Linked DNA regions of Homo sapiens: regions 1, 3, 4 and 5 are each reported to be linked to region 2. Evidence: microRNA targets listed by miRTarBase, many of them from high-throughput screens and not tested one by one. Region 2 holds a microRNA gene; each other region holds the end of a gene's coding sequence.

Evidence for each region. Region 2 holds the annotated microRNA hsa-miR-3150a-3p (CUGGGGAGAUCCUCGAGGUUGG, at 2,000-2,021, shown strand). A microRNA usually pairs through its seed, bases 2 to 8, with sites in the 3' UTR of a target mRNA and lowers its output. Matches are read on the target gene's strand: a 7mer-m8 pairs with bases 2 to 8, a 7mer-A1 pairs with bases 2 to 7 and ends in A, and an 8mer does both.
Region 1: the mRNA of ZNF281 is a reported target of hsa-miR-3150a-3p. Seed matches in the 3' UTR shown: 7mer-A1 at 2,615-2,621.
Region 3: the mRNA of E2F1 is a reported target of hsa-miR-3150a-3p. Seed matches in the 3' UTR shown: 7mer-m8 at 1,959-1,965.
Region 4: miRTarBase lists HAND1 as a target of hsa-miR-3150a-3p. Seed matches in the 3' UTR shown: 7mer-A1 at 1,915-1,921.
Region 5: miRTarBase lists SPON2 as a target of hsa-miR-3150a-3p. Seed matches in the 3' UTR shown: 7mer-A1 at 2,944-2,950.

What each region holds. Positions count from the first base shown.
Region 1 is chr1:200,403,274-200,408,087 of GRCh38, forward strand. ZNF281 (zinc finger protein 281) reads right to left here. Exons shown (of 2, transcript NM_001281293.2): 2 at 1,678-4,814. The coding sequence ends at 3,745. Among named protein-coding and RNA genes, the nearest start is that of ZNF281, 4.4 kb to the right of the region's middle.
Region 2 is chr8:95,070,963-95,075,776 of GRCh38, forward strand. MIR3150A (microRNA 3150a) reads left to right here and starts at 1,952; the gene lies at 1,952-2,031. It overlaps MIR3150BHG (MIR3150B host gene), which reads right to left and starts at 2,220. Exons shown (of 2, transcript NR_132986.1): 1 at 1,967-2,220. MIR3150B (microRNA 3150b) reads right to left here and starts at 2,034; the gene lies at 1,949-2,034. It overlaps LOC124901980 (a long non-coding RNA gene), which reads right to left and starts at 1,291. Exons shown (of 2, transcript XR_007061013.1): 1 at 784-1,291. It also overlaps a transcript of NDUFAF6 not described here. RefSeq lists a silencer at 2,427-2,526.
Region 3 is chr20:33,672,928-33,677,741 of GRCh38, reverse strand. It overlaps E2F1 (E2F transcription factor 1), which reads left to right. Exons shown (of 7, transcript NM_005225.3): 5 at 202-316; 6 at 412-637; 7 at 763-2,265. The coding sequence ends at 1,010. It overlaps NECAB3 (N-terminal EF-hand calcium binding protein 3), which reads left to right and starts at 3,314. Exons shown (of 12, transcript NM_031232.4): 1 at 3,314-3,518. The coding sequence starts at 3,390. RefSeq lists enhancers at 2,287-2,787, 3,458-4,005, 4,006-4,553 and a silencer at 2,974-3,603.
Region 4 is chr5:154,473,156-154,477,670 of GRCh38, forward strand. HAND1 (heart and neural crest derivatives expressed 1) reads right to left here. Exons shown (of 2, transcript NM_004821.3): 1 at 4,311-4,515; 2 at 1,817-2,755. The coding sequence ends at 2,651. Among named protein-coding and RNA genes, the nearest start is that of HAND1, 2.8 kb to the right of the region's middle. RefSeq lists enhancers at 1-249, 250-1,221, 2,892-3,746 and a silencer at 2,550-2,737.
Region 5 is chr4:1,164,254-1,169,067 of GRCh38, forward strand. It overlaps SPON2 (spondin 2), which reads right to left. Exons shown (of 6, transcript NM_012445.4): 6 at 2,679-3,403. The coding sequence ends at 3,219. All of the region lies in intron 1 of LOC124900647 (nascent polypeptide-associated complex subunit alpha, muscle-specific form-like), which reads left to right. Among named protein-coding and RNA genes, the nearest start is that of SPON2, 5.9 kb to the right of the region's middle. RefSeq lists an enhancer at 2,808-3,057 and a silencer at 2,884-3,167.

The sequences.
Region 1 (4,814 bases), not on the chromosome of region 2:
ATAGATGTTTTTCCACTGTTCCCATTTTTAAATTACCTCAAAAATACTGACCAGCAATTGCTAAATTATGGTAGTCCTTATTCTGAATTTCCAGTAGCACAACAGAAATCCAAAAGCATTGTTTCCTACTTCATACCTTAACTTCTTAAAAGTAAAAAAAAACCTTAATTTTAAAATGATCATATTCAGAGACAGACATTCCACAGAAGAAATAAAGGCAGGTGGATGGGTTAAAAAAAAAAATCAATCTGTTAGGGCTAATCTAGAATAGAGAATAAGTCACCTGTGCAAAGAAATCAAAAATTGGATTTCAATATAGAATCAGAGATTCTGCTTAGCACTCTTGTTCAAGAAAAAGACCAAATCTAGGAAATACACTTGGGCAAAACAAACAAAAACTGACATTTCCTAATCACAGACTCGCCAGTACAGATAATCTCTACAGAGAAATCCATGCTTATACTTAATATCTTTATGATTTCCTGTAATACTATCATATACTAAAAAGAAAACAAAGCCTCAAAGACCTATTCTACCCTTTAATATATTTATTCCCAATTCCTCAACACTGTAGCCACTAAATTTCAAAACACAAATGTCTTATGATCTACTTTTTCCCTTCATACTTATAAGTTTACTAATATATTACATATTTACTAATTTTCAGTTTCTGCATCTCCATTATTTATAGGTTTAGCTCTTTCCTTCTAATACTTATACTCTCAACATTTTAAAACATTGCTGATTTAATAATACCTTCATCCTAACTAAAATGCTCAAGACTGTTGTAATCTAAATCATACTGTCACTTTATTACAACTTTTTAAGTAAAAAGTTTTTTTTCCCAAAACTGGTGCCACAGGATATTACAACATTTTTGAGGCAAAAAAGGATGCACCTAAAACCAGAAGATATTGGAATCTGATTTAAAATAAAGCCTCAATAAATAATTTCTCTGGAGTAATATTAGGATGGCTAACCCAATTTCAAGAAAACATTGATTTATATAATATTAAATTTCTATTCTTCCATATTATGCACCTAAAACATATTCAACGTTCATAAAGTATTCAATGTTCATAAAATGTTGAATGTTTTCATAATGTCATAAAACTGAATATTTTATGAACATTGAATATGTTTTAGGTGCATAGCAATATGGAAGAACAAAAATTTAGTATTATATAAATTTGAATCCTTTTTTTTTTTTTTGAAACGGAGTCTTGCTCTGTCGCCCAGGCTGGAGTGCAGTGGCACAATCTTGGCTCACTGCAACCTCCCCACCTTCTGGGTTCAAGCAATTATCCTGCCTCAGCCTCCTGAGTAGCTGGGACTACAGGCACACGCCGCCCCACCCAGCTGATTTTTTGTATTTTAGTAGAGACGGGGTTTCACTGTGTTACCCAGACTGGTCTCGAGCTCCTGAGCTCAGGCAATCCACCCGCCTTGGCCTCCCGAAGTGCTAGGATTACAGGCGTGAGCCACCACTCCCGGCCTTGAGTCCATTTTCAACTAAAATAAACCTAGAAACACAAAATACCTAAGTTAAAAAAATACAATTAAAATACAAGCCTCTAAACTGCAGGTTATACCACGGATGTGAATATTTTAGAAAATGTTAATAGAAAATTCTGAAAAACGTTACTGGATATTAAGTAATATCTCCTTTCTTCAATCTTGTGATTAACAGGACTTTTATTGGTAGTAAACTAGAGCAAACAATCAGAATAATACATATGCAGTATTCAGTACACACAATAAAAGTTAAAGAAATTCAAAACCTGTATAAAACAAACTGGAGAAAAATCATACAGCTTAAGAGATACAGTGGTAAAGGTCCTCTCCATCCTTTGATTACAGCTTGTACTCTGTACTCAATAGAACTTACCGCACTTACTGAAATAAGAAATAAACACTTTTTAGTACTCAGCGTATTTAAGATTAAGTACATTTTCTAAGAATCTTGCAATGACAAGTTGGTGACCCTTTAGCTGCTAAAGCTAAAGGGAGGAAAGTGGGAAAAGGAAATTAACTAATACTTTGTAACCATTTTTAATATTTCTTATTTTCCAAACACTGCTTTTATAACAGAAGTGTTTTACACTTGCACAATATTAATTACTTTATTATACATGGAAGCCTGCGGTAGGCTGATTACACAATAAGACTGCAAACAACCAGTGGTACTTTTCTGACGTCAGAAGAGTACATAAGACTGAAACATCACCAAAAGTACATAAAAAACTCATCAGCATAAACATCAAAGTACATTAAAAAATATAATCAGGAAAAAAATACAATTGCTAAAAAGCAGTTTTAGAGTAGAGCCACTGCCAATCAGTAGCTTCAAATGGCAATTAGAGTTCATAGCAAGTTTTGATGACTTTACAAGACCCCTGTACAATACTAATGCACCCTTTCATTAAAATGTACATTAAAGGCCGCAATTTCACAAAGAGGTTCTGATGTTATTACTATAAGCAGACACATTCTTATCCCTCACAGGAGTTATGTCACCAGTTGGAATTACAACCTTATTAATATCTATCCAAGAACACGGGGTTTTATTACATATGGAAATCTGTATGGGTTTTTTTTTTTTTAAAGGTGGGTTTTGGGGATGTTTACCCTATTGTTTTTTATTTGGATGCCCTAAGGCATATAAAGCGCATAGTGAATTACCTACTGGAATGTAAATGGTTCTAAAATTAAAACTGTTAAAATAGAAAGAGGGAAAAGGAAGGCCCAAGAACTCTTAAAGAGAGGCTGAGAACAAGAACAAAAAAACCCAGAAGTGTAGGTAATACGTAACAGCGCAGACAGAACCGTTGTAGGCCATGTATAATAAATAATGCATGCCCCAAATTTCAGTTAATCATATAATTTCAACTTGAGTTCTAATACTGGAACCAGCCAACCACTTGGGCTTCAACACTGTACTAGATGTCAGTAGAATCGCTTGATGGAATTACAGCCTTGTTACAGTTGAGATCAAGAGAGGGTGCTTTTTTTTTTTCCTTCTTTTATTAAAGCTATCATTCCAGGCTTTGATCAAAGATCCAAGAATATTTGTTCTACCAGGCTGGAATGAATGTGGTTTGGAAGTTCAGAGTACATTTAAAAGCTGCAACAAAATATAGGTAGCCAACAATCTCAGAATTTTGGATCAGCCCAGATGGAGATAGCAATTTGAAATGTCTTCGATCCCTTACTTAAATGACGAAATGTCTATCAGCCCAGATAGAGCAATTTGAAATGTTTTCGATCCCTTACTTAAATGATGAAATGTATATCATACTATCTGTAAATTGGATATTCCATTACAGTGATAACGTACAGAATTCCCATGCGTTATTACACTTTCCTGAGAGTAAAGCAATTAGAATAACCTTAATCCTAGCAACAAAGTTTTTTTTGTAGGTTTTTTTTTTTTGGTTTTTTTTTGTCTTTTTTTTTGCGTTTAAAACATTTGGGCTATTCCCTGACGATCTATACATGTAAATTTGATTGCTAAACATTGTCACTTTGAATGTCAAACTATTTTTAATCTATTGATTTTGATTAAAAATCATAATACAAACAGAGCTAAAATCACGCTAACAAAATAAACTAAATATGAAAAGTTGCATTGAAAGGGCATCACATTATTCTTAATAGGATCGTGTAGAAACATTCCAATGGCAGTGTTCTCAAAATAAAACAAAATTACATTAGAAGACCTCCAGCCTGGCCACTTTTGGGACCTTACCTGTAACTCTGGCTGGTGGGTGTCTTTACTCTTGTACTACATGGCTCACTTACATCAGACATCATATTTGTATACCCTGAGAAATCTGACACTGAAGTCCTTACTCTATGGTCCACTTCTCCATTAGAGTTAGTGATAAAGGTCATTGGCACCCTGCTGCCCGACTTAAACTGAGAACCAAACGCTTGTGCAAAGTTCTCAATCTGATACGTTGTTCTAGGCTCTATGTCTTTCTGAGGATCTATCTGGCTAGCTAACTCCTGAGATGGAATCTGAAAGCCTGTTGAAGACTCTAAGTTTTTCTGTTCCTTCTGGCTAGTCAATTTCTGAGATGAGGACTGGAAGGCTGATGAAGTCTCTAAGTTCTTCTGAGAATCTATCAGATCATCCAGCTCCTGGGAAGGTGTCAACTGCTGATGTGTAGCATCCAAAGCAGACAAATAAAGACCTGGCTGAGATCCAAACAACATCCCAAAAGGAGGCTTTGGCAATGAAGATGGCAACACTGAGGTAACAGATTGGCCGAAACCACACTCCAAAGGAGACGTAGTGTATATTTGTTTTTCTGGAAACAAAGTGTGGTTGTGGAGAGGTGAAGACAAACTGACAAATTGGAAACCGTGTCCAAGAGTAAAACTTGCATTAGTGGATTTTTCAAAAGCCTGTTGGAGGTATTTGGAGTATTCTTGCAACATACTTGCTTTATCATTTGAAGGTGTTTGGGTGCCTGGGCTCAAATTTTCTTCTTGAACCAATTCTGAGTGTTCTCCTGAGGTGTGTAAATCCACTCGTGGTTCTGCAATATTGAAAGGATCCTCTTTCTGGCTTTCTGATTTGTTGGAGTATTGATCCAAAATACTTTGTAAAACCTCATCAGGAATTCCAGACTTGTCATGACAAGATTTAATTTCAGCATTTAGAGCTGAGGAGTCAATAAGTGACAATGGTGCCTCATTGTCCAAAACACTGACACCTGCAGACTGAATGACAGACTGTTGGGAGACCATGTGTCCTACGTTTATAGAAAAGGCACTGTTGCTGCTGGCAGTTGGTAAATATCTTCTTT
Region 2 (4,814 bases):
CAGTAAAAAGCAATTTCTATACCAAGGAAATAATAATGGTGATAATCCAGATCACATAGAAATTAAATCTACTTTCCTAAACAGTAAAACCAGCTAGCTTTGCATGTGTTCATACCATATGATTAATATTAAAGCATAAGGCAACCGGCCGGGCGCGGTGGCTCAAGCCTGTAATCCCAGCACTTTGGGAGGCTGAGGTGGGCGGATCACGAGGTCAGGAAATCAAGACCATCCTGGCTAACACGGTGAAAACCCGTCTCTACTAAAAATACAAAAAAAAAAAAAATTAGCCGGGCATTGTGGCGGGCGCCTGTAGTCCCAGCTACTCGGGAGGCTGAGGCAGGAGAATGGCGTGAACCTGGGAGGTGGAGTTTGCAGTGAGCCGAGATCTCACCACTGCACTCCAGCCTGGGCGATAGAGCGAGACTCCGTCTCCAAAAGAAAAAAAAAAAAAAAAAAAAGCATAAGGCAGACACTACCAGCACTGCACCCTCATTAGCCAGCCAGCTTTGCAGACTCACCACCCCCACAGGCTGTCCTGGAGGTTCCTACGCCTGCAGTGGGAGCTAAGAGGTCAGCTGTTGCCCCAGAGCCGACCCCAGTAACCTTTGCAGCTTCCCTGAGGGCTTCAGGGACCTGCACCCTGTTTAGTGGGCACAGAGAAAATGGCTCATGTCCTGGAAATACCCAGCCTGGCTCCATTGGGCTGTAAGTAGTTCCTGGCAAAATTCCTCATTAGGTAACAATTTGGATGGTGGTGGAGATGTGTCCCTCCTACTTTACCCAAGAGGTGGTAGCGGTGTGGCCTGTGGGAATTTTGAGGGCAGCGGGCAAAAGTCATTCCAGTCCCAGGGCTCAGCTCCAGCAGCGCCCAGGGGCATCTCAGAAGCAGCTACATCATCATCTGTACCACCCCACGCCCTGTGCTTGTTTAGGGCTGAGATCCTATTGGGAGGCATTTGGGGAGGAGGTGAGCTGCGCTGGCAGAAGGTTCAGGGCCGGTCACTGGGGATTTTCCTGCCACTCACATCCCCTTCTTTCAAGTCTTCTTTAACTCTGCACAGATGGGAGTAACAGAAGATGCTGGTTTCCACCTCATCATTTTTTACCTTCTCACCCCCAGAAATTAATCTTCGCATAAACCTCAGGACCAGCACAATGCCTGTCTCAATAAAATGTTAGTTTCCTTTCCTTCTGTATCTCCTGCCTTCCCCTTCCTGGCCACCTAAGACACAGGGCCGTTATGTTGCGGTGCCCTACTTCGCAGCACCCCCAGACCTGCCCAGGGCTGCTCCCCATGCCAGAACCCTCCCTGTCCCCTAAGAACCTGACTATCCTTTGTTTCATTCCCTAAAAGCCTTACTTTTCAAGGCTGAGGCTGCAGCATCCTTTATACTGGTATACACTTTCATGTTTACAAGTGTCATTGGGCATCTACTGGTACTCATCTTAGTTACCCTTGTAACAGAGCCCTTAGATGTCAAACCAAAGCAGTGACTGACACTGAGATTTGTGGCTGCCTGGGTAGGTAGAGAAGAGAGAGAGAGTAGAGTTGACCATGTTTCTCAGCTCACAAGTTCCTATGATGGCTTGGAACCCTGACCAGCATTTTCTTCTGAAGCAACACCCTCGTGGTATGTTCAGCCTTTTTCTAGATCTCTCCAAGACAGAGAAATACTTGTTGCTCCTGCATTGAGGTTGGGCAGATGGGCATTACTGGGGCACTAGTGGCCAAGTTGCCCTGATCCACCCACCTGAGACCAGGTATGTGTGTGGTGGTGCAAGCCACTGCTTTTTCAGGCTGGTGCTGCTGGATGAGAAAGTCCCAAAGTTCTATCATTGAAGGAGCAGCACAAGAGTGAGGACAAATACCTTCACAGGCAGCAAGAAAGTGGTACACAGCAGGGAGGGCAGTGGGCACCTGGGGGAAGAGCAAGGCCCGAGGAGTGAGGGGAAGCAGGCCAACCTCGACGATCTCCTCAGCACCTGAACGCCAAGGCTGGGGAGATCCTCGAGGTTGGCCTGCTTTCCCTCCTTTTCTTACAACTTCTGGAGAAGCGTCAGCCCTCTGCAGGGAGGCGGCCAAGCTGGCAGGCGAGTCGGCGAGGGTGTCATTGCTTATATGGCTGCGGGGACCGAAGCTAGGAATAGACGCGCTGAGGGCTAGGAGGGCTCCGACCGGACGGAAGGATGCCGCATCGCGGGTCGCTGCCCGGAGCTGTGCGAGTTCGGTGCTCAGCCCCAACGGCGCTTTAGGCGGGTCCCCTAGGTTCTCGCCCTTGCGCGCGCAGCCAGGACAGTGTTTCTGCGCTTCCTGAGGCCAAAGCGGGTCTCCCCGTTTTTTCCTCTGGGGATGCCAAAAGCCACTGGAAAAGACAGGAAGCTGTCGCCCCGTCGCATTCTCAGCAAGATGAGGCCGAGTAGGCAGCGCCACCTCTCCCGAGCGCCCGCGCCCCGCTGCCCCAGCCGGGGAGGGACTGGAGGTGAAGTCGCAGGTGCGCTCCCCAGGGAATATCCGGGCTCGCAGACCACGCGGCACCGCCCCCGCCTCGCCCCGCTGCTCCTCCTCCCCCATTCCAGGTGTCTCCTTTTCCGCTTGCCCCTTAAACGTCCCCCTTCCGCAGGGGTCCTGCGAACCCCATCCACTGCCATGGCTCATTCTAACACCTTCACTGGGTGTCTTTTTGCATAACACTTAAAATAAAAATGGATCTGAATCTGATCCCGGCTTCCAGCTTACAGGACATGTCGAGGACAGAGGCACAAGTGAAAGTCCACCCAAGGAATGCAGTCAGCAAAGCCACGGTGTGGGGAGCTCTCTCCAGAGGGTAGGGGAGAAACCCAAAGAGTAAAAGAGACTTTAAAACCTGCCAACCAATCCCAACCTGATGTCCTAATTTGAATCCTGATTCAAATCAACTGCTTTTAATGGAAACTTAAAACTTTAGTGGAAATTTGAACCTGACTTGATATTTGATATAAGAAACCATAGTTAATTTTTTAAGGCATGATAATGGCATTGTGCTTATTTTTAAAGGATAGAGTCCTTATTTTTAGAAATTCAGACTGAAATATTTATGTCTGGAATTAGCTTCAAAATAACGCAGGGAGAAGTGGGTAAGGGTTGGGATGGAACAAGGTTGGCTATGATTTGATCGTTGTTGAGGCTGGGTAATGAAAACATGGGAGTTCGTTCTAGAATTATTTCTACTCTTGTATATTTTTAAAATTCTCTATAATAAGGTTTTAAAAAGAAGGAGAAAAAAAAATGGATATATTCCAGCTGATTAGTCTCAACGTTTTCAGGGCCACATACAAGTAGGGCCCTGAAAATATGTTAATTATGTGACTTAAGATCACCTGGGAGTCCTTTTCGTTACTGACTTGTGCGACTTGTGTGGCTCGTGTGCTCTCATGCTTAATTGGATTGGTCTTTAATCTGGGGCCAGGGAAGTGTTTGACCTGTGGCTGAGATTTCCACCTCTCTGCACTTCCCTTCCTGAACACCAACCAAAAGTGGCCCTGGGTTTCTAACCACCTGAAGATGACTTTCCATCTCCTCCAATGTCCTATGTCTAAAACTGTACAGCCTTATGCACTACCTCCTAACTTCCCCATTTCTATGAATAGCAGAGCATTTCCTCTGCCTCTGTCACAGACTAGAAGCCATCTAGCCATTTTGACTTCCCCCTCCTCTTTTCTCTGTCCCTCCACTTAGTCACCAAGTTCTGTGGATTCCTTGTTCACTGTTTCTCAGACTCATCTCTTCCTCTCCACTCTCACTGCTGTTGTCTAATCCCAGATGTGGATTTTCTCTGTTACATTTACTTCCTCACTGGTTTCCTGTCCTTAGATTCCTCCTTCCAGCGATCCCACCTGCCACTGCCCATTGGAGAGCCCTTAGATCAAGGGCCTCATGTTATGATTAGGCTTTGCAAACTCCAAATTCCTTCTTTTACAACCTCAAAAATTTCATTCAAAGAAAGCAGGAATGATTATCAGGCAGCCAGCAACCCCACCCCTCAAATAGAGTCTAACGTGAAAAACATTATTTCTCAATTGGTAAGCAAACACATCCCTCACTGATTGTTGGTAGGTCAACAACGGCCCAGACTTGGACAGCTGACAAGCAGAACCCAGGGTCACAAGGATCCCATTCATGTGGGTCAACAGACAAATGAAAGAGCTCAAATGACAGAACAGTCCAGAGATTCCTGCTGATTTTTCTAGCGTGCTCTAAAATGGAGCAATACACCAGGTTTCTAAACCATGGACACAAGACGTGACAAATGACTTTCAGATATGTGAATTCATTCATTCAGATGAAATTTACAAAAGCATACAATAATGTCATTTTTAGTTATACACTTAAAATCATCTTTATTAAGAAAAAAATACATTAAATAAAATTAGGACCATACAGGAAAATTCAGTCTGTCAGGTCACCAGGGCCAAATACACAGTCTCAAAATGCTTGGAATGAAAACAATATTTCTCTGATGCCCCCAAACAGACATTTATTATTTTGTCAGCCTAGATTAGCACTCCCTTTTTGGAGCTGGGATTTTATCCTCCCCAGGCCAACCATAAGCATCTCTCGGGGCATGGGAATGTTTCCCTAGAATTTTCTAGTTGGCTTGGTGAATAAGTGTCCTCTTTCCTCTCTGCAGGAAATTAAGGATGCAGACACTCAGGGCGTGTGTCTTGCACAGCCAGCCAGCCTGGGAAAATGAAGCCAACTGGGAGAGAGATTTGAAGGACTCTGGTTCTAGGCATGCGCACTTCTCCAGGTACTTGAGCTTGGAAACCTTCTT
Region 3 (4,814 bases), not on the chromosome of region 2:
ATTATTACCTTGGGATTCAATGGGTAGAGTGATTTCATTATACAGATGTGGAACTTGAAACTCAGGCGTGAGGTAGGTTTTGAGTGGGTAGGAGGTTGGGAGGACAGGAGTGACTAGGCAGGTGTGAGCCCTGCCTTGTGAGCTGTTGGAGTGAGTGACCCCCTAGAAGTCAAAGGTCATGTGGTCCTTGACTCTGCCAACCCTGGCCTACGTGACGTGTCAGGACCTTCGTAGCATTGCAGACCCTGCAGAGCAGATGGTTATGGTGATCAAAGCCCCTCCTGAGACCCAGCTCCAAGCCGTGGACTCTTCGGAGGTGAGATCTGGGAACTCCGGGCCCAACTGGGCTGGGCTGGGCTGGGCTGGTGGTCACCTGGGCCTCAGTTTACCCTGCCTGCTGCTTCCACCCAGAACTTTCAGATCTCCCTTAAGAGCAAACAAGGCCCGATCGATGTTTTCCTGTGCCCTGAGGAGACCGTAGGTGGGATCAGCCCTGGGAAGACCCCATCCCAGGAGGTCACTTCTGAGGAGGAGAACAGGGCCACTGACTCTGCCACCATAGTGTCACCACCACCATCATCTCCCCCCTCATCCCTCACCACAGATCCCAGCCAGTCTCTACTCAGCCTGGAGCAAGGTGGGTGATGGGTAGGTGGGTGGGGTGGGGCAGGGCCCCTCTTCTGGGGGGTGGGCAGGCACGACAGCCCCTGCCTTCCTCCCTGCTGGGGCATCCCCGGCCTGTGATGCTCCCCGTCTCCCCAGAACCGCTGTTGTCCCGGATGGGCAGCCTGCGGGCTCCCGTGGACGAGGACCGCCTGTCCCCGCTGGTGGCGGCCGACTCGCTCCTGGAGCATGTGCGGGAGGACTTCTCCGGCCTCCTCCCTGAGGAGTTCATCAGCCTTTCCCCACCCCACGAGGCCCTCGACTACCACTTCGGCCTCGAGGAGGGCGAGGGCATCAGAGACCTCTTCGACTGTGACTTTGGGGACCTCACCCCCCTGGATTTCTGACAGGGCTTGGAGGGACCAGGGTTTCCAGAGATGCTCACCTTGTCTCTGCAGCCCTGGAGCCCCCTGTCCCTGGCCGTCCTCCCAGCCTGTTTGGAAACATTTAATTTATACCCCTCTCCTCTGTCTCCAGAAGCTTCTAGCTCTGGGGTCTGGCTACCGCTAGGAGGCTGAGCAAGCCAGGAAGGGAAGGAGTCTGTGTGGTGTGTATGTGCATGCAGCCTACACCCACACGTGTGTACCGGGGGTGAATGTGTGTGAGCATGTGTGTGTGCATGTACCGGGGAATGAAGGTGAACATACACCTCTGTGTGTGCACTGCAGACACGCCCCAGTGTGTCCACATGTGTGTGCATGAGTCCATGTGTGCGCGTGGGGGGGCTCTAACTGCACTTTCGGCCCTTTTGCTCTGGGGGTCCCACAAGGCCCAGGGCAGTGCCTGCTCCCAGAATCTGGTGCTCTGACCAGGCCAGGTGGGGAGGCTTTGGCTGGCTGGGCGTGTAGGACGGTGAGAGCACTTCTGTCTTAAAGGTTTTTTCTGATTGAAGCTTTAATGGAGCGTTATTTATTTATCGAGGCCTCTTTGGTGAGCCTGGGGAATCAGCAAAGGGGAGGAGGGGTGTGGGGTTGATACCCCAACTCCCTCTACCCTTGAGCAAGGGCAGGGGTCCCTGAGCTGTTCTTCTGCCCCATACTGAAGGAACTGAGGCCTGGGTGATTTATTTATTGGGAAAGTGAGGGAGGGAGACAGACTGACTGACAGCCATGGGTGGTCAGATGGTGGGGTGGGCCCTCTCCAGGGGGCCAGTTCAGGGCCCCAGCTGCCCCCCAGGATGGATATGAGATGGGAGAGGTGAGTGGGGGACCTTCACTGATGTGGGCAGGAGGGGTGGTGAAGGCCTCCCCCAGCCCAGACCCTGTGGTCCCTCCTGCAGTGTCTGAAGCGCCTGCCTCCCCACTGCTCTGCCCCACCCTCCAATCTGCACTTTGATTTGCTTCCTAACAGCTCTGTTCCCTCCTGCTTTGGTTTTAATAAATATTTTGATGACGTTTGGGCCGGGTTTTGGGACTCTGTTGGGAACATTTCGGGGCGGGAGAGGCCAAGGTTGCTGGGGAAATGCCCATTCTCCACTTCCCTTCTCCCTGTCCGTGCCCGATTTGATTTGAGCCTCATAACTCGAAGAAAGGTCAGCTTCCTCGCTGTTTTGGTCCTAACTCAAAAGCAGATCCAGTAAAGGTTTTTGTTGTAGAAAGCCAAGAATGCTATTCAGTGCTGCCCGAAGTGCAGAGTAATGAGTGGCCTCTCCTTTCCCCAGCCCCAGAGGCCACTCTGCTCAGTTTGCTGTCTTCCTTCCAGACGTTTCTGGACATTAGTAAACATGTAACAAATACAGTGGGCTGGTTCTGTGTCAGGTATTTAACAGTTCTGGGGACACGGGTGTTACCTCCTTTCATGGTGCTCTCAGGGTCTGAAAGAGGAGATCTGCATAAATGAGAAAATCGGGAAAGGCGTTCTGGAATGGGTGGTGCTTAAGCTGAGCGCTGTAAAATAAGTAGGAGTTAACCAGAGGAAGAAAACACCAAGCAGAGGACACGATGGGCAAAGGCCTTGGGCAGGAGGGAGCGGGATAGAGGACCGGAGAGAAAGCAGTGTGGCTGCGGTCCTGAGGTGAGGGTCAGAGTGGTGCTCCTGGAGTGGGGCGTTCAGTCTTAAGCTTTATTCAGGGGCCAAGGAGTCACTGGAGACCGAAGTGACACCTCCTCTTTCGCATCTTAAAAGCTCCCCCCGGCTGCTGTGTGGAGAACGGGTTGAAGGGAGGGCCAGAGTCACGGAGGGGAGGGGAAAGGGCTGCGCTTAGTGCCAGAGAGGGCGGGCGTCGGGATGCCTGGGATTCGGCCGCACGGACCTGTGGGCTTCCTCTGCGCCAGCCCCCGTTGTAAGCACTTGACATTGAATGAGTCCCAACAATTGCATAGGGTGTCTGCCAGTACCATTTTTGTAGATGAGGATACAGACGCCCCAAAAGGTGAAGTCCTGGTGGGTTTTACCCACTTGTGTCACCCTGACCTCGGCACTGGCTTGGTCATCCTGTCCCTCTGGGTAGGCCCGCAGCCCCTAGGTTCTGCTCCCGACAGGCCGTCGCGGGACCGGAGCCCTCGGGCGCCTCCCCCTCCGCCGTGGCCGCGGAAGCGCGGAGGCCCGCGGCGCTGGAGTTGGACCTTGAGGCGAGGGAACCCGGCGTCCGCGGGGGCGGGGCGGGGGCGGGGCCTGAGCCCGCGCGTCGGCGCCGGCGCCAAGGGGCGGCCTCTAGCCACACCGAGTCCGCCGCGGCGTCCAGGGTCGGCAGCAACCGCAGCCGAGCCCGAGCGGGTGGCGGCGCCATGGCGTGCGCGGGGCTGCTCACCGTGTGCCTGCTCCGGCCGCCCGCGCCCCAGCCCCAGCCCCAGACCCCGCGGCACCCCCAGCTCGCGCCCGACCCGGGGCCCGCCGGACACACGCTCTTCCAGGACGTGAGTGGGCGCGGGCTCTGCTCGCGGTGTCTCCCTACCCGAGTCTCTGTTAGTCTCACCCTCCGGGGTTGTTCGGGCCCCGCCGCTGTTTCTGGGTCTCTTCCCCTCTCTCTGGCCCTGCTGTTTTCTCTTGACCTTTCTGCCCTTGTGTGACCTGTTCTGTCTCTCCATGTCTCCTCTTGTCCCTGCTCCAGTGTCACTGCCCCTGCTGCCTCCCACCCCTCAGCCCACCCCATTTGTGTGTCTGGTGTTGGCGGGGGGCTGGCGACAATCACAGCAGCGGTCACCCCACTCTGTGGCAGCTCCAGGCTGGGCTGACTGGGGAAGGGGAGCCTGGAAACGCAAGGGCCCCTCACTCCTGACTCTAGTGCCGCCCCCAGAGTTCTTCAGGCCCCACTCCAGGGCAGCAGAGTCCTACAGTTGGTAAGGGCTGCTCAGAGTCACCCTCCCATGGGGCCATGGGTGGCCCTGCGGCCACCATGGGCACCAGCCACGGCCCTGAGCCCTTTCTCCACCGTTCACCGCTGTGCTCGGCTCTGTCCTGGCCCCCTCATGCCCCAACTCCAGAGGGAGGCAAAGCTGTCTCCCACCCCCTCCCCACTGCCCCTAGTGACTCAGCACCTTGACCACAGCCCTGGCTGGAAGGGACCTGACCCTCCTTCTTCCCAAGTAGGAAAACCAAGGCCTGAGGGGATATGTCTCAGGTCAGTCATGGAGGCAGGGATACAATAGGGTGACCCCAGATGTCCCCATTCCCAGCTTAGCACCCCTGCCCACTCCCAAGATCTCCATCTACCCTACCTGGGCCTCCCTGGCTTGCTGCGTGCCCCTCAGCCAGTGGCAGACCTTCTCTGAGTTAGGCTAGAGGTTAGAGTCTTTCCTGAGCCCCACTGACCCTGACAAAACAGGACCCTGGAGGGGGCTGGCGTTCAGGACCTGGAGTTCATGGGGGCTCTCGGCCCAGGCTTGGCCCACCCCTGCTTGCCAGGCCTGCCAGTCTCCCCTTTGCTGGGCTGCTTTGGGTGACCTGGGAGCAGGTCACTAAGAGAGACGGGGACCTGTCTTGACTCTGCTCCTCTCTGCCTCTGTTGCTCTTCATCTCCACTTCTCCATAAATGAAATCTGCCGAACTTGCCTTCTGCCACCCCCACTCCCCCTTGGACGTGTGTGTGTACACACACGCCTGCCGAAGGTCCTCAGAGTCAGCCCCATAGGAAGCCCCAGCCCTGAAAGAGTTAACCCCAGCTGCTCCTGATCTATTTGCTAGTGGGTAACTCAGGCGCCTGCAGAGACAGA
Region 4 (4,515 bases), not on the chromosome of region 2:
TTTCCCCGGCTATAAGAAAGCTAGACCAGGGTGCGCATTCTTCCCGTGCCTAGGATACTTCACGGTGCTAAAAATAGTCCTGGGAGCTGGGACCTGTGTATAGCCAGAGGTTTGTGTGTGAGCGAAGTTGGAGTCCTGGGTTCGAATCTAGATAAGCTTCCCTCCGTGCTGTGGGGCTTAGATCACCTCCCTCCCTGAGTCTGTTTCTCCATGCGCGCCGGAATTTCTAAACGGACTCCCAGAAAGAAACGGAAAGAAAGAAGGTAAAGAAAAGAAAAACAAAACAACAAGAAAGAAACTTTGATTTTTCTCTCTGCTCCTCCCCAAGGGCCCTGGGGCCTCGGGCCGGGTACTGAGGCCGAGGAAGGGGTGCGTCGGACAGGCTCATTACCGCCAAGTGTTGCCCTAGTTAAATCGCGGGCCTGTTTGATCTGGCGGCGGGTGGCGAGAGGGAAAAAAGAAAAAAGTAGGGGGGCGAGAGTAGAGAGAGAAGCTCACACCTCCCCCACTGTTTCCTAGCGCCCATAAAACACCTTTTATTAACTCCTTCGCGTCCGGAAAGGCCCGCGTGGCCTCTCGGCCCCTGCTACGGTGTTTACAGCCAAGACTAATGGGGTCCCATATTCACCCCGACGCTGGGACAAGGCGCCTGGGGCACGCCTGGTGCCCCACGAGGCCCTGCCCCGGAGCTGCCTGAGGTCTCCTTTCTTGTTCCCAAGCCGAGCGCTCAGGCTCCAGGTGCGCAGAGCGAAAGTTCCAAGACAGCCTCACGGGTCTCCCCTCCTCCTTCGCAGTGAGCGCCGCAGACCCTCAGGCGCTGCAGAGCGTGCGCTCCGTGGGGCAACCATGGGAGCTGTTGGGAGACACAGAAGTGCTTAGCGCAGTGCCTAGCACACAGTTGCACGCAACCAAAGTATTCGTACATTATTATTCCTGGAAGTATAAACCACTGCGTTTGCCCGCCCCAGTTTAGCCCAATACGCATCCAAGATCCTTGGCAAATGCACCGAATTTATACCCACCACACCTAGTCATGGGTGCGCATGAGAGAACACAAAGACTGGCTCTCCTGCACAAGTGCCCGAATGAGCACGCATACACACATACACCCCATCCCTTTGCACAAATCCATATGCTCTCACAACCTTCTGTCGAGTGCTTCGTTGCTAAAGAGAAACCTAAATACCTCAATTTAACATATAAGCACTCACAAGCTTATTTTACTCAGGTATAAAATAATAATAGCTGCTGTGACTTGTCAAGTCCTTACTGTGTGCTTGGAGCTGTACTAAGCAGACCCTTGTTGGCCCCTGCACAGCCTCAGGCTCCGTATGAGTTGCTGCACTGTCACATGTACATCTATATGTTGAGAATTTCACATACATGAACATATTCCCCACCAACACCCCCTCTCCTGAGCTACCCTGCCCCAGGGATAGGATTCACCTGTGTGCTAGGCCCCCTTCCCTCCCAATAAACACTCCAAACCACTCTTTGCAGACACCAGTGGGCATACTAACCTCCAGACAAGCACGAATACTCAACGCACAAAAACCCGAGCCCAGGCCCTCTGAGACTAATTCGTTTCCGTTTTTGTTCTTCCCCGTTCCCATAAGTTACCCCCACCTCCCGTTCTAGTCTAAAGAGAACTTTGCTCTTGTTCTTGAAATACATTCTTTATCTGCCGGCTTCCCTTGATTTCAAGTTTGGTTTCGTGTTTATCAAAAGAAGAGGAGCAGGAACAGAGGCTTTCCACCTAGCAGAAGCCATGGGAGTCGGTGAGGGACCCCGGTTGAGACATGACACAGGCTTCAGATGATTTCAGAAAATGTTTTATTAATCAAGAGCATAGACACTGCTTTGGCGAAGGGAGGGGGGCTGTGAGTGGTCACACAGACTTGAGGTAGAAAAGGGTTGGGGATGGCAGGATGAACAAACACCTGAGCACAACAGGCATGGTAGGTAGTTTAAATACATAAAAACTTTCCAACACAGGGAAAGCTTTTATTTAGATAGAAACAAAAAGGAAGGAAAAGAAGGAAGAAAAGAGAGAGACAGAGAAAGAGAGAAAGTGTTTCCCTTGGAACTAAACAGGAAGTGCAGCGACAAAAAGAAAAATAAAATAAAACCACCACGATTCGAAGAACAAAGGGCAGCCTTTCATCTTCCTGCGTCTGGTTCTCTTTCTCAGGCAGAAAAGAATTGATTCCTTATTGCATTTTAATTAGAGAAGACGGCGTCGGGGCGGATCATATGGAGGGACAAGAGAGAAAGAGCCAGATAGGGAAATGGAGATAGGGCTGAGGTTCTAAATTCGCTCCAAAAGGGTGGAAGAGTGCGTCTTTGAGCCCTTGGGTTCGACAGTCCCTCCTTCTTGCATGTTGCCGCCAAGGGCCGCCCTCGGTTGGGCTGGGGGTGGATATATATATATTTCTCTTTCTCTTAATGTATTAAAAAAAATCAAAGGACATTGCACGTGCGATCCAAGTGTGTGGTTGCAGCCGACGACCTGCCGGCGCTCAGCAGAAGCTCCGCGGGATGCGTAGCACCAGTCGCCGGAGCCCAGAGCCTGGCGTTCGCCGCTGCCTTCCTCTCCTCCCGGGGCTTCAGGAGTGGCTGGCCTGGCCAGGTCCTCGGCGCGGGCCTCGGCTCACTGGTTTAACTCCAGCGCCCAGACTTGCTGCGGCCAGCCGGTGCGTCCTTTAATCCTCTTCTCGACTGGGCCCAGGGCAGGAGGAAAACCTTCGTGCTGCTGCTGCCAAAGGACACACAGAAGAAAAGAGGCGGGAGAGACAGGTTTTAATTTTTCTGCTCCGATCGCCCGGCATGGGGTAAGATGAGGAGGAGGGGAAGGTGTCGGGAGCAGTAACTGGGAGTCTTTAAATAAGTGACGGATTTCTGTTTGCGAAATAGGCAAACAGGCTCGTAAATTTGCCTTTATGCGCGGAGTTCCTGGGACCCGGGATGGGCTGGGCAGCTTCGGGAGGTTTGGTAAGGAAAATGTTCTGCGTCTGGTGAAACTGACGCGCGTTGATTTGGCTTTAGGACACCTAAGGGAGATCCCAGGATATTGGAAGGGAGGGGTGGAAATCCACGGTTCTCCCGCTCTCGCTGCACCCCACACACTTCCGCCAGCCTCCCAACCTGGTTTAAACATCAGGGCTTGGATGCAGGCTTGGGGCCCCCTAAGCCGGAGCTGGGAGCCTCAGATACGGAGGTAAAAGAGCGGGGAGTCGAGCTGGCCTAGCGTCCTCCTTCCCGCTCTTTCAGCAGGAACCAAGCGGTGCTACTTGAAGGAGGCGGCGACGCGTGGGGGCCGGGATCCGCCCAATAACAACTTCTTTCGAGGCGCCGCACCTCGAAAGAAGCCGGCCTGCACCATCCCCAGTCCGGGGCAGCCGTTTAGAGACTCGATGCCTATTTATCTTTCCCTCGTCCCTGGATGAGCTTTCGTCAGTTTACCACAGGCCCCCGCAGGTTGGATAAACCAGGTGGGGCGCTTCAGCTGGCTCCACTCCGCTACGGCCTTAAGCCCCCCAACCTAGAGAAACTGATTGGCCAGCCTGAAAACCCAGCGCTCAGAAGCCCCCAGCCCCGGACAGCCAGACCGAGTGCCAGGAAGTGTCACCCTAACCGGAGAGGATCAAGAAGGCCAAGACGAGACTGCGCTCTCCAAAGCTAAAAGAAGTGGCTCTTATTTACATGCAAAGCCACTGAAGTCGTCCTCAGAACCAGTCCATGGGGAGAACCAGAACTGGCCCTGGACTGAGTAGAAGACCCGATCTGTTTTACCTCACCTCCACCCTGGACTCCTCAGATAGGTGCTTTTCCTGCCCCGACCCACTCTGGGCCCTCAGTTTCCCTATTTATACAATGATGGAAGTAGACTAGCCGGTCCAGCAAAGGCCCTTTGAAAACAGGAACCGAGCCCGGGCACATAAATTCAAACTCAAAGTAAAGAACTTTAACACATATTCTTAACCTGGCTTCCAGGAGAGCCCAGGAATGAATCAGGACTTCTCCAAATTGGAAGCAAAACCTGTGGTGTGTGCATTTTTGGAGGGTCCGAGGCTCCAAACAGATTATTCACTCAGTATTACAAACACTCTCCCGTATTACAAATGAATTCTATGACGAATCTGCCTCCCTCCATGCACAGGATCGCACGCTGTGACCAACCATCTCAGAACTCTTCCCAACCTTTCCAAATCGGACACAGGACAACACAGCCTCCTTCGACTACCTGCATGGCCTGAGGCTGCTCACCGCTCCTGCACCCTTGGCTGGAGCATGCAAGCCCCAGGACTCACCAGCTCCCTTTTCCGCTTGCTCTCACGGCCGCCATCCGCCTTCTTGAGTTCAGCCTTGAAGGCCTCGGGATCGCCAGACTGTGCATCCTTGGCCAGCACGTCCATCAGGTAGGCGATGTAGCTGGTGGCTAGGCGCAGAGTCTTGATCTTGGAGAGCTTGGTGTCGGCCGGCACGTTGGGGATGCACTCGCGCAACTCCGCGAAT
Region 5 (4,814 bases), not on the chromosome of region 2:
GGTGTCCCCTGAGAGTGCCAAGGTAGGCGTCTGGATTGTGCCATCCACACACCCTCTTCTACAGCTCCAATGGAGTATGGTGGGAGTGGAGTTAGGTGTCAGTGCTCAGTTCCTCAGCCTACCATCTTTGCCAGGAACTCCCTGCCCATCGCTTCTCCATGTTCTACCCTTTGTCTTCCTCCCCCAGTGCCACAGACCCCTCAGCCCCAGTCCCCATGGCCTGTGTGTTGTTGCTGAGCACAGTGGGCCATTCCATGATTATCCTCCTATGGCTCGGACACTGTGGACTGCCGACCACTTCTCAGCACAGTGGGCTGGACCAACCCTCACCCTGTAGGCCCAGCAGCACCCTGGAGCCCAGCGTATCCACATCCCACTAATATGAGGGGCATGCAGTCTCAGTGTAGTTGTGGAGCCCCTCCTTCTGGCCCAGGTGCCCCCCGTCCACCTGTGGCAGCACAGTGTGCAGGGGGCTACAGACCACGAATGGGTCCCTCAGGTGTGAACTTGCCCTCACTTGCTCACTGCCCCCCTGGCTCCCCATGCTGACCCAGTTGGGACAAGGCCTTCCTGAAACTGGGATGGGGTCAACTGCTTGGGTATCTCTGGGAGGCATGTTAAACGCAGGTCTGTAAGTATTCACGTTGCGTTTTCATCAAAACAAACCCAGACTCATCCATTTCTTCCCATGTCCACGGGTGTCTCTGAGGCCCAAACCTCTCTCTTTTGGGACTATTGCAGGGGCTTCTCCTCTCCATTTTCCTGTCTATACCCACTACTCACTGCTGTCAAGATGGCGGCCACTGATGCAGTGCTGTTTCTGCACTCTGCGCCTTCCCGTGCTCCCCACCTCATTCAGGAGAGGGCAGCCACATAGGTCCTGTCTGATCCACCCTCCGGCCAGGCGGCCCCTGTGGGATTCCTCACACAGCATTCCATTACCGGATGGCGTTCCCCATTGGTCTCCTTCAAATCTCAATGCCTCAGCACAACAGTGGCCGTCCTAGTGGCGTGGGGGCCCCAGAGACTTCTGTGATGGCACCCACGTCAACACATGCCCTGGGGCCCCAGAGACTTCTGTGATGGCACCCACGTCAACACATGCCCTGGGGCCCTGGAGACTTCTGTGATGGCACCCACATCAACACATGCCCTGGGGCCCCAGAGACTTCAGTGATGGCACCCACGTCAACACATGCCCTGGGGTCCCTGAGGCCAGGAAAGCACAATAGCCTCTCACCTGGGCAGTAAATGTTCTGGCCCCAAAGTGACGCCTGTCCTACCCCAGGGACCCCCAGCTCCATGCTCCAGGAGGGAGGGCAGGTGGATCCAGGTGTCTGCAGGAGTCTGCACCACAACCCCTTCCCCAGCCTTTCAGTGATCCTACAGGACTTCACAGGCTCCACAGTAGCGCATGGTTCTGTGAGTCTGCTCTTGCAGTCTCTGCCCTTTGACTGGAGTGTTGTGTCCGTCTGTCGAGGCTTCAATGCACCACCCCATTGTGCTGCTCTGGTGTCTTTGAGTTTAGAGCTCCTGGCGAGGTTAACTCGGTCAGCATCTTCTCCTGGTCATGCCAGCCCCAGCGGCCCGGTGGCTCTGACCGTGGAGTTTGCCATGTGCTCTGACTCAGGAGCATCAAGGCTGGTGTTCTGTGCGTTTTATGGGTTCTGATTGTGGGTTCATGTTCCTGGGGATCCTCTTGAGTTCCAAGTACACAGTGTGATCTCTACACAGGATTTACGGCCATTCTTTCAGGGGCCTCCTGGCATTGTCAGTCCCAGGAACCTTAAGAAAACTTTAAGCCAGGGGTTTTTCAGATCTCCACGTCACCTCAGAGCTCATGCGCCCGTGAGCTTGGGCTTAGTTCATTGTTTTCAAGGATGGTGGGCGGGGATGGCGTGCAGGGTGGTGGGAGCTGGGCCTGGGGTCTGGTTCTAGAAGCATCAGGGCTGGAGGGCCTTAGACAGTTACGAGGAAGGGTCGTCTACCAGGCCTCGGTGAGAGAAGTGAGCCCCCACCTTCCAGTCACTGGGAGAGGACTGAAGAAGCAGCCATCCCCCAAGCATCTCCATCCTCAAACCACACAGAGCTCCCGCCCAGGCACTGAGAGGGCCCTGGGGTTCCACCAGGTGAGTGGCACTGGTGGGGAGGCCTGGGGACCCCTGCTGCAGAAAGGGCCACGACAGATTACAGTGAGCCCCTGAGGACATCTTTGAGGTTGGGGCCTCTGAGCTCAGGTCTCAGGAGGTGTCTGCTGGTGGCCTGATGGGCTGCGAGGGTCTTGGTGGTCAGTGGCCCCCCCATGAACAGCAGCAATGCAAGCTGCTCCCACAGAGGAGGGGGCAGAGTGAGGGCTTCTGGGGCCTCGTCCGGATCTCAAGGTGCCCCTTGTCTGAGCTTCTGATCGTCCTGTGGGCAGGCGCGTGCCTGCCGGGTTTGTGGATGCATCTGACATGCCATTTGCTGTGTCTTCTGAAATCCTGTATGGGCCAGGGGTGGCGTCTGTTGTGGGGAGATCTGTAGGTCTCAGGCCTGCCTCCCACACACACACAGAGCACGTGCCTCATGGCCCTGACGGCAGCACCAGGCGCCTTCTGAATGTGTGTCCCCAATTAGCGCACACCACGGGTCCCTGCACTGCACGGGGCCCAGAACAAGTGTGGGGACAGCCAGGGACATTTGTGAGCAACAGAGATAGTCTTTATTCAAACGCAGAGAGATCCATAACATGGAAACACTGACGCTTCCGAAACCGCCCCATTTATTCACTTCTCAAGTGGCCCCCGCTTGGATGCGCCCTCGGGAGAGTGGGCTCAGCACAGCCTAGAGCACCAGGTCTGAGGTATCTGCAACCACGTGGGAGCCAGGCCCCTGGACGATGAAGGACAATCTCCTGGAGCAGCAATAACTTATAAGGAGACATAATTTAGAGTAGCTGGAGCCTTGGGGATGACTTTATCCTGCAGGAGGAGGAGGCTGAGAGCAGACGGGACACGGGGGCCCCTAAGAAGCAAGGTTGGGAAAGGAGGAGGCTGTTTCCCAATGCCCGTGCCGGCCACCAGAGGGCCCTTCAGTGCAGAGATGGTCGGCGCGGCCTCACCGCGGTCAGGAGCAGCGCGAAACCCCCTGTGCCCTCGGCCGCCTGCAGCATGAGCCTGCACAGGAGCCCCCGACACCCCATGGCTCCGGGGGGCCCCAGGGGCTGCGGGGCTCTGGTCTTAGACGCAGTTATCAGGGACGCACTCAGCCTCTTCTTCGAGCTCGGGGCAGGGGCTCCCGTTGTTGGCGGGCTGGACCCGGACGTAGCGAGTCCTGCTCTTGGTCCCGAGCCTCCCACAGTGGCCTCCGCACAGTCCCCAGGACGACCACAGGGAGACCTCGCAGTCCAGCGGCGTTTCTGGAACTGGACCAAGCAAAGGGGAGACCGAGGTGAACGCTCGCGTGAAGAGGCGCTTCGTACAAACGGAAGCCACCTCCCACCAACGTGTGCATTCATCAGAGGCCACGCCCACCCTTCGGGGGCACTTGCGTTTCTCCGCACAGTCGCAGAGTGAGCGGCAAGATGGGATGGCACCATAGCAACCTCGGACACAACCTAGGGACTGGAGTTGCGCGTTTCTACGTAAGAGCCGGAGCTGCCGCTCAAGTCCCTGTGGTGGTGGAACTCCCACATCGTGGCAGAGTAAGGGGCCCCTGGGAACCCCGTGGGAACCCCGGGAGAGGGCGGACACCCCTGCTGTAGAAAGCTGCTCTGCCCGAGCCTGGACCCAGCTGCTACATTTACCCGAATAACAGACAGGGGCACCTGATTAGCTGTCTTGCGGGACCTGGACCCCCCACAGGACTCAGACCTTTTCAGTATCGTTCTCGTTTCCCTGTGTCCCATCTGGTTCCATAATTTTCATAAATTTAAAAATCATCATTTGGTGTTATGGTTAAGTCACTTGGTAATTTCCATGTTTCCAAAGCAAAGTGAAAACACCTCTTTTGCACCCCACAGGCCAAGCCAGCCAGATGGACAGTGTTTCTCTGGCTGTGTGGCCCAGAGCGGGCAGCCCCTAAGGAGGCCAGGAGCCCCGCCTCACTCTGCCGTGCACGGGAGGACAGTCAGCAAGGGCTCGGCTCTCCTCACAAATCTGCGAGTACCCTGCTGCCAGCTTTGTGGCTACTGAAGGATGAGAGAGAGTGGAGAAGGGGGTCAATGTGCAGGTGCAGTGCCTGGACTGGTCTGGAAGCCCTGGCCAGGCCCACACCTGGAGCAGCCCTCTCCAGAGATGCAGGAACAGGGCTTGCAAAGACCTTGGGCGCTGAGGCTTCGCAGGGGCACTGGTGTAGAAGCCAGAGAGCCAGGGCCCCGGGCAGCCCACCTGGGGAGCACACAGAGCTGCTGGCAGATCCCAGCACCCCCCAGCTTCCTGACTGAAACCGAGGTGGTGGGAGCGCCCCTGCCCTGGCTGCAATGAGGAGTCAGTGAGCACTGGCAGTGCCTGTTCTACAGCGAGGGCCCCACCACAAGCCTCTCCAATGCTGCAGAGCCCTGTCAGGAGGCCTGGGGACAGGCATCCAGCGTGTGAGCAGGAAGCCAGAGCTGAGCCAGGCTGGCTTGGCGTGGACCTGGCGGAGCCTCCTGGGTGCCAGCCGCCACATGCCCATCCCAGCCTCTGCCCTCGGGAAGCCAGAAGTCACAGGAGAGACCCTTGTGGGCGGTGGTCTGTGCTCCGTCCCCACTGCCCACTCTGGTCCCTCGGCTGGCACAGCTGGCTCTGTCCGTCTCCCACCCTTCTCTCCATGTCCTGCCTCCTGCTCAGAGCTCA